Linked DNA regions of Homo sapiens: region 1 is linked to region 2. Evidence: fine-mapped expression QTL. Tissue or cell type: whole blood. Region 2 holds a variant in brackets; the other region holds the start of a gene. All regions are shown on one strand. Distances are from middle to middle.

The links. PIP is the estimated chance that this variant, and not a neighbour inherited with it, causes the effect.
Region 1: it holds the start of DAAM2, and the variant in region 2 is fine-mapped to the expression of DAAM2 in whole blood (INTERVAL, PIP above 0.99).

What each region holds. Positions count from the first base shown.
Region 1 is chr6:39,789,028-39,797,133 of GRCh38, reverse strand. DAAM2 (dishevelled associated activator of morphogenesis 2) reads right to left here and starts at 4,758. Exons shown (of 25, transcript NM_001201427.2): 1 at 4,669-4,758.
Region 2 is chr6:39,616,759-39,624,864 of GRCh38, reverse strand. The region is part of intron 5 of KIF6 (kinesin family member 6); the gene reads left to right. It also overlaps the pseudogene RNU1-54P. Among named protein-coding and RNA genes, the nearest start is that of KIF6, 100 kb to the left of the region's middle. The variant T/C (reference allele first, on the strand shown) is at 4,523.

The sequences.
Region 1 (8,106 bases), 170 kb before region 2:
CACATGGGGCTGCCATTTGCTTGGCATGGGGAGCACTGTTCTGTGCCCCACTTTTGTATAAAGGGTCTCCATCTCCAGGCTGAGATATCTGACCTCCAAGCACAGTTGTTAATCCTTGAATAAGTGGCTTATTTACTTTGACCTGTGGACAAATGTCTAAACCCATGTATTTTCACGGACTTAGAACTGGAGAGGGGAATGGCATTAACATTTTACTGAGCAGTTTGCTAGCTTCTTCCCTTATATCATTCCATTTCATTTTCAGAACAACCCTGGGGAATGAGAATAGTTATTGTTCTCATTTAACAGATAAAGAAGACTCAGAGAGGTTAGCAAGCTTGTGACCTGGTGGTGCCAGAACTCAAATCTCTGTCTGCTTGATTCTAAAGCTCTTCCTTGGAACCATAGGATGTACCACAAATAATTCAGCTCCTCTTTGGCCAGGATTGAAAGAGACATCAAACTGCCTAAAGTTCATTTTTTTTTTACAGGTTTTTTTTTTTTTTTTTTTTTTGGAGGGGGACCCCAGAAAGAAACCCATAACACCTATTAATAACCATAGTCTGATAAGTCTTGGCCAGTGCTAGCATAACGCTGCACAGGTTCCAAGAACAGGCACTTACTTCCTCCCCCCACAGCATCTTGACTGTGCAGTTTTAGAACCTCATAATGAAACAAAAAACAAACCAAAAAATGTGGAGAGAGTTGGAGAAATAGATGCTGCCAAGAGTGAGGAATTCACTGACCCCCGCTCTGGGCCATCTCAAGAGAAGTTGACCACTGGTTGAGCCTCTTAAAAGCTTAAAAGTCATCCCAGGCCATGGTTAAAGAGAGAGCTTGAACAAAACAAAAACAAATGTGATCTTCAAAATCTTAAATGTCAACTTGAAGGATAACTTACAAGCTTTGAGATGGGCCAAGAGGACCTGCAGCTGCTCTCTAACATCAGATGTTCCTTTGTTCCTTTGGAGTAGTCACTCCCTTGGATAATGTATCAATCAGGGTTCAGGGGGCAGCCTCCCACCCCATACCCACTGGAGATGTTTGCAATGACTAAAGCTTTCATTCTTTACAACCCATCAGATTCCCCCATTACTCTGACCTGAGCACCCTTGACAAGGAGTGGCTGCCTACCCGCTCTCTGACTCAGGCTTGTCCTTCAAGATCCAATTGGTCCTTGACCCTCCTGCCCTACCCCCACCTCCCTACCTTTCCCCTCCCCACCATACTTATACAACCTGCTCTTCTGTCCTTCTCCCTCCCTAAAGAGCACAAACACAAGAGTGATTTCTAGGCCAGACATCCAGGATCCCTGGTTTCTTCTCCCACACTTCAGGATAATGGACCAGGGATGCTCATGGAATATCTTCATTGGTCACCTTTTCTAGAGGAAGGAAGTAAGGATGATCAGAGCCCTAGAAACTCCACCCACTAGCCTTCAATCATGGAAAATATGTAGCTAGATTTGGGGAGAGGTTCTTTCCAAGCAATACTGGCTTGTGATGGCTGAAAAACTGAAAAATAAAAATACAGCACTCCCTTTATGAAGGGTCTTATAACATTCTGAGCTCTGTTCTTAGTTCTTGTGCATAAATGTTTTCATAATGACCTGGGGAGGGAAATACTATCCTTATTTTACAGATGAGGAAGCTGAAGCTCAGAAGGAATAAGTCATGTAGCCCAGGTTACTAATTCGTATTTAGGTCACAGTTCTCTCTCTCCAGGCAGCTGATCAGAAATCTGCACTCTTTCCATTGTTGTCGGGCTGCCTCTGAAGTCTAGGGCTGAATGACACAGGATCCTTGACAGAGTCTCTGGCTGTTGAGATCTAGAGGGTCATCCGCTATCAAAGCCAAGGATATCCTTCAACTTGTTCTTTCTGCCAGCTGTGTTTGCCCTCTGGACCTTCAAGGATGTCTTGGAATGCATCCCATCTACTTAATCTAATCTCAAAGATGACCAAAGAGCTGGCCAGAAGATTGAACTGATAGAATGAGCCATGAGAAGGCTTCAATGTCAGCCTAGGCATCCATGGCCTGGGAATTCATCCCGGCCATAGTGAAATGTCTCCTAGTACAAGCCCAGAAGCATCAGGACTCCACTGATCCCACATGCAGCACTCCCAGAAACCCCACATGTAGAAAGAGTTGAAAACCCAGTTCTTGCCCCTCACCTGTCCCTGAGGAGTTGTATGCTGGGATAAGAGTATTTCTGGGAATCCTGTTCCGAGGGGTCCCTTCTGTCCCTGGGTAGTCTTCTATGTTTAAATAATGGAAATGAATGAGAACATTTAAACTTGTTACTTCCATTGGCTCTAGTAAAATCAAATAAGAAAGCCTCATCTTTCATTATCTCTATGCTTTCTCTACTGCCTGTACTTACCCTTTATCTTCATTCTTTACACCTGGATCCAAGGCTCTTTAGTAATGGGGAGTTTAATCTGTTTTGCATCAAAAACTTTGGAGACAGTCGGGAAAGAAGACTGGGGAGAGAACATGTTCTCACAGCAAGCAGTAGTATTTCAACTTCCTCCACGCTCACCAAAAACAAAATCATTTACAGGCCTTCCTATTGGTCTTGCCTGCACAGCCTCCGCCTTCTTGAGCCCCTGACTCTCTAAGTTCTAATGCCCAGGAGAATGTTCTCTCCTCTTTTTGTCCTGATGGGGGCACGAGTATTCCCTCAGCATCCGAGGCGCTGGAGGAAAAGCTCTGAAAACTCAGCTGGGAGTTAGGAGCCAGAGTTTGCAACTACCAGGGAGCAAGACAATAATAGCACAGTTGTTTGCATAAAGGAAGAAATGGGGGTTAGATGGAGTTCCCAGCACAGATGAAGAAATAGACCATTTATCCTCCCATGTCTAAGGCCATGGCCATCACCACACAGTCATGTATGTGTAAAAACACATAGGCATGTGCATCTCATGGGGACCAGTCACTCCTGTTTACATGCACCCTTGTTTACATTGCCTATGGGATGATTTCCTCCTCCTTCATTACACTTCAGTTGACAACGTACTCCTGAAGTTAAATGAGTCTGTTTCTGACATTGCTGCCTGCTCCATCTTTTATGGAGCTTCCCTGGGGTTCAATTTATATAATTTCTAAAATCCTTCCTGAATCTTAACTTCCTGTGGGTCTGTTTTTACATCCAGATTTCCTCCCTGTCCCTTCATTTTCTCATTTTTCTAGGACAGAGGGAGAGTCCAGTAATCTTCCTCCCACCCAGACATTGTAGGTTGGCTCTACTGCAAAATACAAAACCAGAGACCTGGCTAGCTCAAAGCTGAAAATTCAGTCTGTCTGTGGTCACTCGTTTGTGGAACCCAGCTATTGACAGGCAGTGCCTGGCACTGTGCTACTCAGGGATGATGGATCGATACAGCCTCACTGCTGCTTTTTTCCCCTACTCTCCGTGGAGCACACTTTCCGCCCTAGGCCCTAGGGAAAATCCATCCCCCGCTTCAGCTGGCTTTGCAAAGAAACTCAGGAAACTAACACCAAACTCAGAAGGGGGAAAACACAAGACTTTGAACTTTTTAAAGATGGGAAGCTGCTTTCATTCCCACGTGGGCATCAAGGGAAAACCTATGGGGACTCTTTTCCGGAGAGGTGTGATTTTCCTCTAACCCTCCGAGAAACGTTCCAAATCCACTCCAAAACTGTGGAGAAGTGGCCGAGGCAGAGAGAGAAGAGTTAAATCAAGCCCAGATCTCAGCAATCTGTGTTCAATTTTGATAAAAATCTCCCTCTCCCCCACCGCCCCCCTTCCTCCACCCCACAGCTCAGACACGTCTCTTTATGTTAGGAGCTTGCATCTTGTTTGGGGCACCACACGCGGCACTCCTGGAGAACCTGGCACGTACCTCACCGTGGCCATGTGGCAGAACCAACCATCCCACTCCCAAGCTACGGCTGGACACAGGGCCACAGCGTCCTGGCCATCACCACCACCTCCCCCTCTTCCTTCTCATCCTCTTCACAAAATTACCTGCCGCCAGACCAAGTCCCTCATTCCCCGGTTAAGTCAGAGTCCCGACGCCTGGTAAAGTCAGGGCATGAGGTTGGTTTGCGACCGCAGGTGCTGAGAGCCCCAGAGTCCGGGGACCCCTTTCCTGAGATGCTCCTTCCCCCGCCCAGGGTCCCACTGCCACTGAGAACAAGAACCTTACGGCTGCCCTGCCCACTGGCCAGAGGCCAGGCCTGCAAGTGGGAGCTGGGGGCTTGTGAAGACTTCAGCCCAGCCAAGTGAAGGTTCAAGCCGAACCCGGAAAAGCCACCACCAAAAAGTTGTCAGTTTTGCGGGGTATCTTCTGTGTTTGTCCACTTGTGACAACCAGGGGTCAGGTTTCAAAGCCGCAAAAAACATTTTTAAAAAGTTTTCCAAAGACATTTCCTATGTCCAGATGTGCCAGTACAGACACACGCAATCACACTCATACACACACACAACTCACACACACACAGGCCCTGGGAGCCCACTCCGGGGTCGGCGGCTCCTGCAAACACTTTGGAGAAACAAAACCGCCAGCCTGCGGAGCTGCTGCCTCCCCAAGCCCCGCGGGGCATGCTAAAGAAAGCAGAGGGAGAGAAGTGTGGGAGCCCAGCGGAGAGGGCTCCCCGCGGCCCGGGCCCCAAGACGGGGAGCGCCAGGGCCGGCCGCACTTACTCCGAGGACCCCAGGGCGCCCGCGCTCCCGCAGCCCGAGGTACGGCGCCGCCGCCCGCGCTCCGCTCGCTGCTGCGTGCTCCGCGCTATCCCCGGGAAGCCGCGGCTGCCGCCCCTCCAGGCCCGGCCTCGCGCCCGTCCGCCCGCCCCGCTCTGACGTCAGGCGTCTTGGAGCGGGATATTTATGGCAAGGTTACTCTGAATTTTCCCTAGGTAGACTTCTGATTGCAGTTTCTTGGGATTTGTAATTTTCACACTTTCAGACCGAACGCAGGCGGGGGGAGAGCGCCACCGGCAGGGCGAGGCGTACAATGAGGGTAGCTGTTCCCCACTTTGGCAGGGAGCGTTCTCAGGGCCCCTTCTGTTTTGGAAACATGGAAGGGTCAAAGAGGCAAAAGTGGCCACCTGGGCAGCGGGTTTCTCCCCGGCTCCTCCTCTGGGCTACGGGCAAATGGCCTGGTCTGAGGCCGGCTCGGAGGTGAAGGTCCCGGTGCCAAGGAATCCCCTGTCCCTCCCCAAAGTGTCCCTGCACTGGACAGTGTGTCCCAAGGGGTGCTGGGCAAGACAGGAGCGAAATCAGGCACAACAGAACAGCTAATTAGGAGTCCTGGTCCACGCCCTAACAACTTTTCCATTTCTTTTTTGGGAGTGTATATATATTTTTTTAAGTTTATTTTTATTAAATTATGTTCCACACTCCCTGCCTCTGTATAGCTTTTCCAATTCAGTGCCAGTCAATTCATCTTACTTCATTGCTTGTATGCATAGTTTGAGCAGTTTACAATAGCTCTTATTCATACTTTTAAAATTTCCTTTTAGTTTTTTTTTTTCTTTTTTTTTTAAATGTGATTGTGGTCTGTCTCCTTGACTGAACTAGAGATTGCTTTGGTCAAGAGCAATTGTCCTCTCTGGGATTGGCAACACCCTCACGGGGAGTATTTGATCTTCTCTGTTTCCTATTTTCCCCAGCTCCCTCTGCAAGCAAATGGTGCCCCCACTGGGTGATGACCTGTATACAGTTTTCTGGGTGTTCAGTGGTTGTTCTGTGTTAGTGGTTGTCTGTTTCTCCACCTCACCAAAGGGGCTTAGGGAAATGGCTTGGTTTAAGGGCCACCCTTCCAGAGAAAAAAAGAGAATGTAATGCATGATCTTCCAGAGGAAAAAAAAAAAAAAAAGAGAATGTAATGTGTTATCCTTCATGGTTCCCAAGGATTGGAGAATGAAATGAACTTAAAATGATACACGTGAGATGCAAAATACTTATATGGTTAGACAACATAAGTGTTTAGGTATTCATCTCACCATGAATGGGAGGGGGCACGGATAATTGCAAATCATCATTAAAACACAACTATAGTGAACTTTCCATTAGCCCAAACTGGTAGAGGCGGGGTTGTGTTTTAACCACAGTTACAGTGCAGCAGGGACTCAAGGACTTGGAATGTGTTTACCTCTTTGGCAGCAGCTGGTTAGAGCTGATTGCCAGAAGGAGCTGTCTTAGGGCTGGGCCTCTCGGTAGAGGCCACGCTGTTTTGACCCAAGCCACCGAGGGCCCTGCAGCAGGGAGCTGCTGTTTGGTCACTGTGGGATTGCTCTCCCTGGCATAATACCCCACTTTTACCTCCTTCCATTCCCTCTCTCATATCAAGGCTCCACTGGCAAGGTGAGCTCTGTTCTTCAGCAGACCCTGCAAATAGGTTTCCAGAAGCCATTGACAAACCCATTCTCCCTTGCCTTTCTCAACTAAAGAAGTTAGAAATCTACAATATTCACCATCCCAGACTCCCTGGTAGCTCACAATTGCTATGAGACCAAGTTCTGACCAGTGAGATTGTAATACAGAAGACAGAGGATGCCTTCCACAAACTCTCTTTAAGAGAAGATCAGATTTGGCCAGGCGCGGTGGCTCACGCCTGTATTCCCAGCACTTTGGGAGACCGAGGCGGGCGGACCACGAGGTCAGGAGATCGAGACCATCCTGGCTAACACGGTTAAACCCCGTCTCCACTAAAAAATACAAAAAATTAGCCAGGCGTGGTGGTGGGCGCCTGTAGTCCCAGCTACTTCGGAGGCTGAGGCAGGAGAATGGCGTGAACCTAGGAGGCGGAGCTTGCAGTGAGCCGAGATTGCGCCACTGCACTCCAGCCTGGGCGACAGAGCGAGACTCCGTCTCAAAAAAATAAATAAATAAATAAATAAATAAATAAATAAATAAATAAATAAAAACACAAAAAAAGATAGGGCCAGAGACTCAGAGGTGGCAGGTTGGGGACATCATGAGGACAGAAACAGGGGAAGTGAGGCTGAGGAGCAAGCATTCTAGGTCTGGGAGAGGGGAGTCTCTCCATCCTTGCCCAAGTGTTTTGGAGGCAGGGTCTCTCTCTGTCACCTAGGCTGGAGTGCAGTGGCACGATGATAGCTCACTACAGCTTCGAACTCCTGGGCTCAAGGGATTTTCCCACCTCAGCCTTCCCAGTAGCTGGGACTACAGGTGCATGCCACTAGGCCCTGCTAACCTTTTTTTTTTTTTTTTTTTTTTTTTTTTTTGTAGCGATGTGGTCTTGCTATGTTTCCCAAGCTAATCTCAAATTCCTGGTCTCAAGCAATTCTCTCAACTCGAGAGGCCGAAGCGCTGGGATTACAGGTGTGAGCCATTGCGCCTGGCCCCCAAGCATTCTTAATTGGGTTCTATTGGGATGAGGAGCAAGTGAAATTCATAAAATACGTGGCTGTCAGTGCTGAGGAGCTGTTTTTGAGGTTGGCAAGCCCTGAAGAGTCCATGAAGTAGTAGGGCCCACTCGAAGATCATCTGATTCACTCCCTACCCCCAGCCCTATCACTCACAGGGTCCTAATGTGGGAGTCTCTCCTATTCTCAAGATTCCCAAGAAAGGGGTTTCATCCTTCTTCACCTGCATATTCTAGGAATGTTCCCGGAACATACAGTGAGGCCCTCTGTAGCACACTACTCATCTGGAAAATTGTACCTGCTTGATGAAAGATTCTCAAATAGCACATTATGGTTGACCTGGCTTCCAAAGCTCACTATATACTTCCAAGGCCCAGCCTATCATGATAAGAAGCAGGCTTCACAAAAGTCACTTGCTCACTCTCCAGGGGTAGAGATCCTAGTCTAGTACAGCATGGACCACAATAGCACTCCATAAAGACTTTCTGAAGAATAAATGAAGGCCCCATGAATATGTCATCTAATCAATATGTGACTCTCCGCAAATAACATATACCTTTCTCTGATTTACTATTGTGGACTATAGCAAGTGTTTGAACCAAAGACCTTGGTTAAATCCCAGCCCTGCCTCTCACTGCTGTGTGACCTCAGCATGGCAGGAAACTTTCTCAAGCATAGTTTTTGTGATGGTTAACTTCATGTGTCAACTTGGCTGTGCCACAGTGCCCAGATAGTTGATCAAGCATTATTC
Region 2 (8,106 bases):
AATGTTAGCTTTCACCAACCATTGCCTAATAAGTGATGCGTGGAAGGATGGGAAGAAAGAGTTTCAGTGTTTTCACTCGTATATCTGGAATATAGAAATATATCTGTGATATTTAGAGCTTTTAGTGACATGAATTAATGACAGGAAAAACACTGTCACCTCAATCTATTCCATTTTCCTTGTGCTTTGTGTATGAACAAATGCATACACTTTCTTCAGCCATTAAGAGGTGAAATACACATTCTAAACTGTGTATTAGTATGGATTTGTCTTGCTTTGACATATTGTCCTGTTAGTCTCCACGATTGCATTATGAATTGATTTATTCTGATAGTACATCATTTTCAGAATCCATTCTCAATTTTCAGTATATGAAGCAAAACCTTAGGATTATTTCAAACAGCTTTGAATGATTCTAAGCTTGCTTGATCACTTTATTCTGTTCTTTAGAAAAATGTACAGGGTTTAGAAACACGTCTATTATAGCTCAACTGATAGAGAAAAAAATTATTACAACCTTTTGAGAGTGTTAATACCATGTATACCAACAATTTACCATATTGCAAGAATCTCAATTAGCTCTTTTGAGTGCATTATAAAGAATTTAATCTGTATTCGTCTCTTCAATTAACTTACCATTTAGTTGGAAAATGGGGTATACACATGAAACACCTGAAGAGGCTTCTGCACCACACTCGACTATCCCACTAATAATGTATGTACATGTGAAAAGAGCATACACATGATTTAGAGCTGCAGTCATCTCATAAAAGGAGCCCACTTCAGCCAGTTGTTTCCTGTCACTACCTACTCAGGCCCCTTTTAACACCCCCGTCTCTGCTCCCATAACCCTCAATGGTTTCCTAATTTTACTGACGTATGGCAAGTTCTGACTGAGCCAAGAGCTGACAGTGCTGCTGAGGTGGGAGCAGAGCTGAGCTGGCCTGAGAGAGGGGACACATGGGAAGAGCCTTTAGAATGAAGTCTAGGTGAGGGAAGTGAAGAGATTACGTCAGATGGCTGGAGGAGTTATCTGGGCCAGGTGATGAAGGTCACAAGCAGTATATTAATCTCCCTGCTCTGGAACTTCCGTAGCAGTTAGCCTATGTGTGATTCCACAGTTAATTGTAATTGGCTTTGTGTTTTTACATTGAATTCTAAGGTAGTTGAAGATGTTCTACAAAACGAAAGTTAGTTATTATGAAACAGAGATAAGACTGATGGTATTCAGACCAACTGGCCAGCTATTATCTATTAGTATTTACCTAACTCGATCTAAGAAGCAAGCCCTAGGAATAATCCATTTAGAAAAATAATGGCTAAATAGATCTCTTTTACAATAGCAAAAGAAGGTAAAATGCTCAGGAAATGTTCGAGAACTTTATGAACAAGATAGTACATTTTTCTGTGAAAGTAAAAGAAGACTTGAAAATAGATAGTTATTAATCTGTTTCTGAGTGTGCAATAGGAATACCTTAAAGGGGTGTTCTCATATTAATGAGTAGGTTCAATGAAATTCCAAACAAAATCACAGAGGCTTTAAAAAACATATATATGATTCCAAAGTTTATCTGAAAGGATAGACAACCAAGAAGAACAAAAGTTTCAAAAAGTAGAGAAGTGAGAGAAAATTAATGACACTATCTATTCAAATTAAGTAAAAGTTCTAATAATGAAATCATGTTATACTACTTCTAAATTAAACAGATGAAGAAAAGCAAACAGATTAAACCAGAATCATATTCTATACAATGTAATCATTTAATGTAGGTAGAGGGAAGAATTCTTCAGTCAACAGTATTGGACATTTGTGTTAGTAAATTAACAACTGCAGGTAATAGCAGCCTAACTTCCAATGGCTTAACCAAATAGTCTGTTCCTTGCCACACCCCAAGCCTCACCTCTCCCACACCACCGCACCTTAAAGATTCTAAAAATAGGCAGGGAGGGCTGCTGTGGAAGCTCCAGGATGCCTTCAGGGCTTCCTTCCATCATTCTGCACAGCCATTCTTAGTGGGCAGCTTTAGTCATCATGCAAAATGGCTGCCTCACCTCCAGCATCTCGTGCACATTTCTGGAAGGAAACAGGCACCTGCTGCCTGAGGCTGCTCATGTCCAGGAAGCTCCATCCAATGACTTTCACTTATTTGTCACTGACCAGAATTTTGTGATATGGGCAGCCTTAGTTGCAAGAGAATCTGGGAAAGTCTAGTGTCTTTAAATAATTCCCTGAACAAAATCAAAGCCTAATAGTTAGGGAGAAGGGGAGGACAGATCCCATACAGGCAAACTGCATCATGAGCCACACAATCATTGATGGAGAGGAAAAATCCATTTAGAGCCCTTATTTCATTCCATCTACTCATATCCCAAAAGAGTACAAGAAAAGTCAATTTTTATATACTCTGTTGATTTGGAAGGACTTTAAGCTTAAAAAGTACAGAAATAAAAGAAAAGATTGATACATTATAAGAATTTAAACTTTTATGTGTTAAAACAAACAAAATTTCTAATACATCAAAGTTAAAAAGCAAGCACATATAAAATTTGCCTAATAAATATAAGAAACAAAATATTTTATATATAAAGAGCTCATACATTTAAGTACCCCAAATAAGTAGACAAAAGACAAAACAATATAACGGTTAAAAAACAGTTGGAAATAGGTTCAATTTCTTTGTTTCTTTTTTTTTTTTTGAGCTGGATTTTCGCTTTTGTTGCCCAGGCTGGAGTGCAGTGGTGTGATCTTGGCTCACTGCAACCTCCGCCTTCTGGGTTCAAGCCATTCTCCTGCCTCAGCCTCCTGAGTAGCTGGGATTACAGGTGCCCGCCGCCCCACCCGTCTAATTTTTGGAATTTTTAATAGAGATGGGGTTTCACCATGTTGGCCAGGCTGGTCTTGAACTCCTGACCTCAGGTGATCCACCCACCTCGGCTTCCCAAAGAGCTTGGATTACAGGCATGAGCCACCACGCCTGGCTGAAATAGGTTCAATTTCATTAACCATTCAAAGAATGTAAATTAAACAGAACATTTTAACCTAAAATATTAGCAAAAATTTAAAAACTAATGTTCAGTGTTATTAAAATAATAGTGAAACAGTCCCTCTCATACAGTAGGAATGTAAATCAGTATAACATTTTTGGAAAGCATTTTACTGCCTACCTTCAAGGAAGTTGCTATTTATTGGATTTTAATGTGCAACATACACTACTAAGCACATTTGTTCATTCATCCAATGTATTATTGTGCATCAAACATAAACAGGTGTCCTTTTAGGCCTGGGGCACAGCGATGAACAAGGAACTTAAATACATGATTTTTTTCTCAACAGTCCATTGTAGAGGTGATATTGTCCTCAGTTTATAGAGGAGACAGAGATGCAACGAGAGTTCCTAAGATGCCAAAGACTTACTGCTAGCACATGGCGGGAGGCCAGGATCTCAGCCCAGGTTTGTCCATTCCACAGAGGGTGCTATAGGCTTCCCAGGTATGATGAGAGCCTTAAAGCTGTTCATAACTTTTGATCTTGTAACGTCACCCCCAGAAATCATCCCTAAGGAGAAAATATGAATTATTTCAAAAGCTTCAGGAACAGATATATATTGATACAGTTAAAGATATATGTGTACGTGTGTGTGTGTGTGTGTGTGTGTGTGTGTGTGTGTCTATCTTACGGTGTTATTTAAAACAGCTTTAAATTGGAAACAACAAATTCTCATAAAGGAATGGTTAAAATATTTCATTAATACATCCTAACCCTAAAATATTGTGTAACTATTAAAAAAATGTTGTAGGCTGGGTGCGGTGGCTCACACCTGTAATCCCAGCACTTTGAGCGGCCAGGGTGGGCAAATCACCTAAGGTCAGGAGTTCAAGACCAGCCTGGCTAACATGGCAAAACCCTGTCTCTACTAAAAATATAAAAATTAGCTGGGTGCAATGGTGAGCACCTGTAATCTCAGCTACTTGGGAGACTGAGGCAGGAGAATCGCTTGAACCCAGGAGGTGGAGGTTGCAGTGAGCCAAGATCGTGCCACTGCACTTCAGCCTGGGCAACAGTGGAAGACTCTGCCTCAAAATAAATAAATAAATAAATAAATAAATAAATAAAATGTTGTTAAGGGGTGATCAAAAGAGAGTAACATGCATACATTTATAATTTTATGACAAATCTGCAAAGTGTGTGTAAGAAAATTAAGGCAATATATTAACATACCACATTGTCCTTGTGATGAGGCTCTGCTTTCTTGGTTCTTTCTACTTTCATACTTTTTCACAAGAAGCATGTATTATGCTTATAGTTGGAAAAATAATAAACTGAATGTTAAAATGAAAATAAAAGTAAATAAATTCAGAACTTTTAAAATGTAGTATCATAAACTAAGAGGTGTATAAAGCTATTTACCTGGCAGAGGAAATGCTATGGTTTTCCAGAATTACAAATCCATTGCCTCTAGATGTATCTATTCTTATAGGTTTCCCAAATGTGGAAAACTTGAGTACATAATTTGTGGTACTA[T/C]CACTATAAAATCTGAATAAGAAAGCAAGTATTAGTAAAAATGGGAGAAAACTTCCTTTGAAAAAAAGTTGGTAGCTCTAAAGAAAACAAATTTTAGTGCACGGCTGTATAATTACTATATGGAATTAGGCCAAACAAGACATTTCATTAAGTGGTGGGTTATTTGTAAGCCTGGAGCATCAGAAGGAACATGATATGGCTGAATGTTTTTAGAAATTAGCAAGGAATACTAGCGTAACAAGCACAGTTTTTTGATTATCTAAAATATTCACTTTTGGAAAAGCATGCAAATGATGATGTCTGGCGGGCAATAGATAAGTGTATGATAAACCATGTTTCAATACAGTAGATTTGGGCGCCATTGATGGTTGTGAAGTGATATTGTTAGGGCATGGAATAGTTTGGTTAGATTAACATAATACAGAAAGATATTCTTATCAAGTTATTAGCAATCTAAAACTTTATTATATTTGGGTATTATTTTGAAAAAAGACAATGGAAATAACATAATGTTTCGTATTTATGCTCAATCTTAGTGAAATGATTAAATTATAGTGACTAATAAATAAATGAGTGCAATCACCCCTGAGAAAGCGTTGGTTCTCCTACACATTAATTGCACCTAGTATGGTTCTATCTTTGCTGATCATAGATCATTCTTGTTTGGGCTTCACATGTCCATAGCAGTGGCCAACAGCTTCCAGTTATGTCCTGAGTCCCTTTGGTGACGTTCATTTTCATGGCATATTGAAGCATACGAGCACAGTAAGCAGCAGACACTTCTGGAGAGTGTGCAGCTGGTTCCTCATTGTCACTATGCATCCTTGAACCCTGTTGGTTACATTACATTAAATGACTTTATCCATTGGTTATTTCAATTCTGTTCCTCTTCAGACAGGGAATAAATCATTTACAGATTGCCAGCACTTCTGAAATGGCAGGCTTATGGTAGCAGGATAACCTTAGGAGGTTGGTTAAGATCTTTGGGAATTCAGACTTACAAGAGTCCAAGTCTATTAACATTATTATTTAGCAATAAAGGTAAATTAGAAATAAAAATGATAATATTTAGAGGAGATATTTGCCAGTTTGAAATAAAAGAAATTCATGTGGATAGCAAAAGAAAAATTTATCACAAGAATTACTCAGAATATTTTGCAGTGCTGAGTTTGGACTTCTTCTGATAAAGTATTTTATTTGTTAGTGTTTTCACTTTTATAAAAGTTAGAACTTGGTGTTGTAGGTTGCAGATTATATTAACTAACTTAGTTTCTAAAACGTGTTAACAGAAAAAGGAAACTCTGTAAAATATTTTAAAGAGATTTATTTTGAGCCAATAAGAATAAAATAAAAAGAGGTTTATTTTGAGCAATCTGGTTACAGATTGGTTTTGTGCATTTCAGAAAGACAGGAATTATAAAATCATAAATCAACAGATGAAAGGCATACATTGGTTCAGTTTGAAAAGGTAGACCGTCTCAAAGGAGGGACTTAGAAGTCAGAGTTGGGTTTTAGGGATTCTTTGGTTGGCAATTGGTTGAAAGAGTTAAGCTTTGTCTAATGACTTGAAGTCAGTACAAAGGAATGCTTAAGTTGAGACTGGGGACGTCTGTTATCTGTGCTGTGATGCTACATCACAGTCAGGTTGGAAAACAAGCCACATTATATTGGATTAATTTTTAAAAACCTTTTAATTAGATTTTGTGATTTGTAGGGTGTGACTTAACACTAGTCTGGCATGGCCTTGGGTCTTGTTTATAATTTGGTGTCTTATTGCCACAAAAAGTTTGTTCTGTGAGTCTTATGATCTCTGTTTTAACATTAATGCTAGTCAGTTGTGCCGAAACTCCAAAAGGGAGGGCGCATAACGAAGCGTGTCCAACCTTCTTTCCTATCATGGCTGGGAATTCAGTTTGTCAGGTTTTCTGGGGTCCCCGTGGCCAATAGGGGGTCCATTCAGTTGGATGAGGGGCTTAGGATTTTATTTTTAGTTTACGAATGTCATGTGATCAGCTATATTCTTCATTGTCAGTGAAAAGATATGATGTTAGATAAAACTACAAAGAAAAGATACGGTTTTCAAGCTACTAGAAAGAGCTTTTGAAATATCTCAGTAATGGACAAAACGTCCATTGCTTTTAGCCCATTTTGTCTAGGTCAACACTAACACAAAAATATATTGCAGGTTCATGAATCTTTCCCAAGAAACATATTTCAAGTATTTATATTTTATAACCAAAGAAACCTTTTAGAAAGTTGTAATCAATCTAAGAAAATCTACCTTTGAAATTGTTTAAATGCAGAAAGGAGGGGTCACCTTACATACTTTTCCTAAAACTTTACATCTCTGCTTTTCCCTAAACCTTCACCATAAAGAGCTTCTGAGAAAATGTGTTGGGGAGAAACAAAAAGGATATTGAGAACTGACAAACAAGTGAATGTTCTCTTTATTTAAGTGACTTGTGTTGGGACTATGTTTACAACATGTGAAACATATCTAGTTATTTAGAAGAGCCTGGTGCACCCCCACCCATTGTCATGAGGCCCACCTGCTCTTGACATTGCTCTAGGTCAGGGTGTCTAGACGGAATGGCCTCTAGTCTGTATGACCTCAAGTCACCTTTATGTCACTTATTAAAAGGCACCTCTGCCATCTATTGGAAAATTGTTGCAGTATGCTGATTTTGTTAGGAGGCTCTTCATTGCCTTATGACAGACATTTGTCGTGATAACTATACAAACCCATGATGTGAATAGCACCCCCTCAGACATGGCGCCATTGCATAGTGCATGACCTATACCATCATAGGGGACATTTGCAAATAGATAAAAAATAGAAATCACCATGGCAACACTTATATATAACATGAACGTTAGAAACCATGTTCCTTGCAGTAATGGCTGGGAAGTTCCTTTTCAGCAAGTTGATGGTACTGAAATGTGGAGGTAGGGTGTGGGGTGGAGGATTCTTTCATTGATAGCTTCCATTATTGAGAACAAGAGCCTGCCTATTGCTCTTTATATGTGCTTCAGTCAGTTAAAAAGAGTCTACAAATTCCAACTACTTAGCCAAATGGAAAAGATTCTCTGTTTACAGAGAAAACACAAAGCTTGCTTCTTCCCCATCATTAAGCAGGCTGAGTACACTTAGCAGAACTTTTCCACTTAGGTATCCAAGTTAAGGCTATCAGTGACTTTTCTTGAAATCTAAATATTTTAGAAACATTTTGTAGGGAAAGCTGTTCACAGGCCTGTTAAAAAAAATCAAATAAATAGTTTGGGGGTTTCCATCTTGGAATTAGAATGTTTATTTAAGAAACTCTAATAAAGCCCTCTTTCAAGCCCATGAAAATTACAGTCAGAACCAAGTGGTAGATTAAGGATTCAGGAAATAGCTATTGATTTGTGAGGGACAGAGGGAAAGAAAGGGCCAGGAAAGGAAGGAACTTGATGAGAAACTTTTTGTAATGGTCCTTATTTCCTTCAACTTTGAAAAACCATTTCACTGGCAGTAGAATTTAAAACACTCTCATTCTGCAACTACCTCTCCCAGGCAATAGACGTAGTGCCCAGGGCATGGCTCA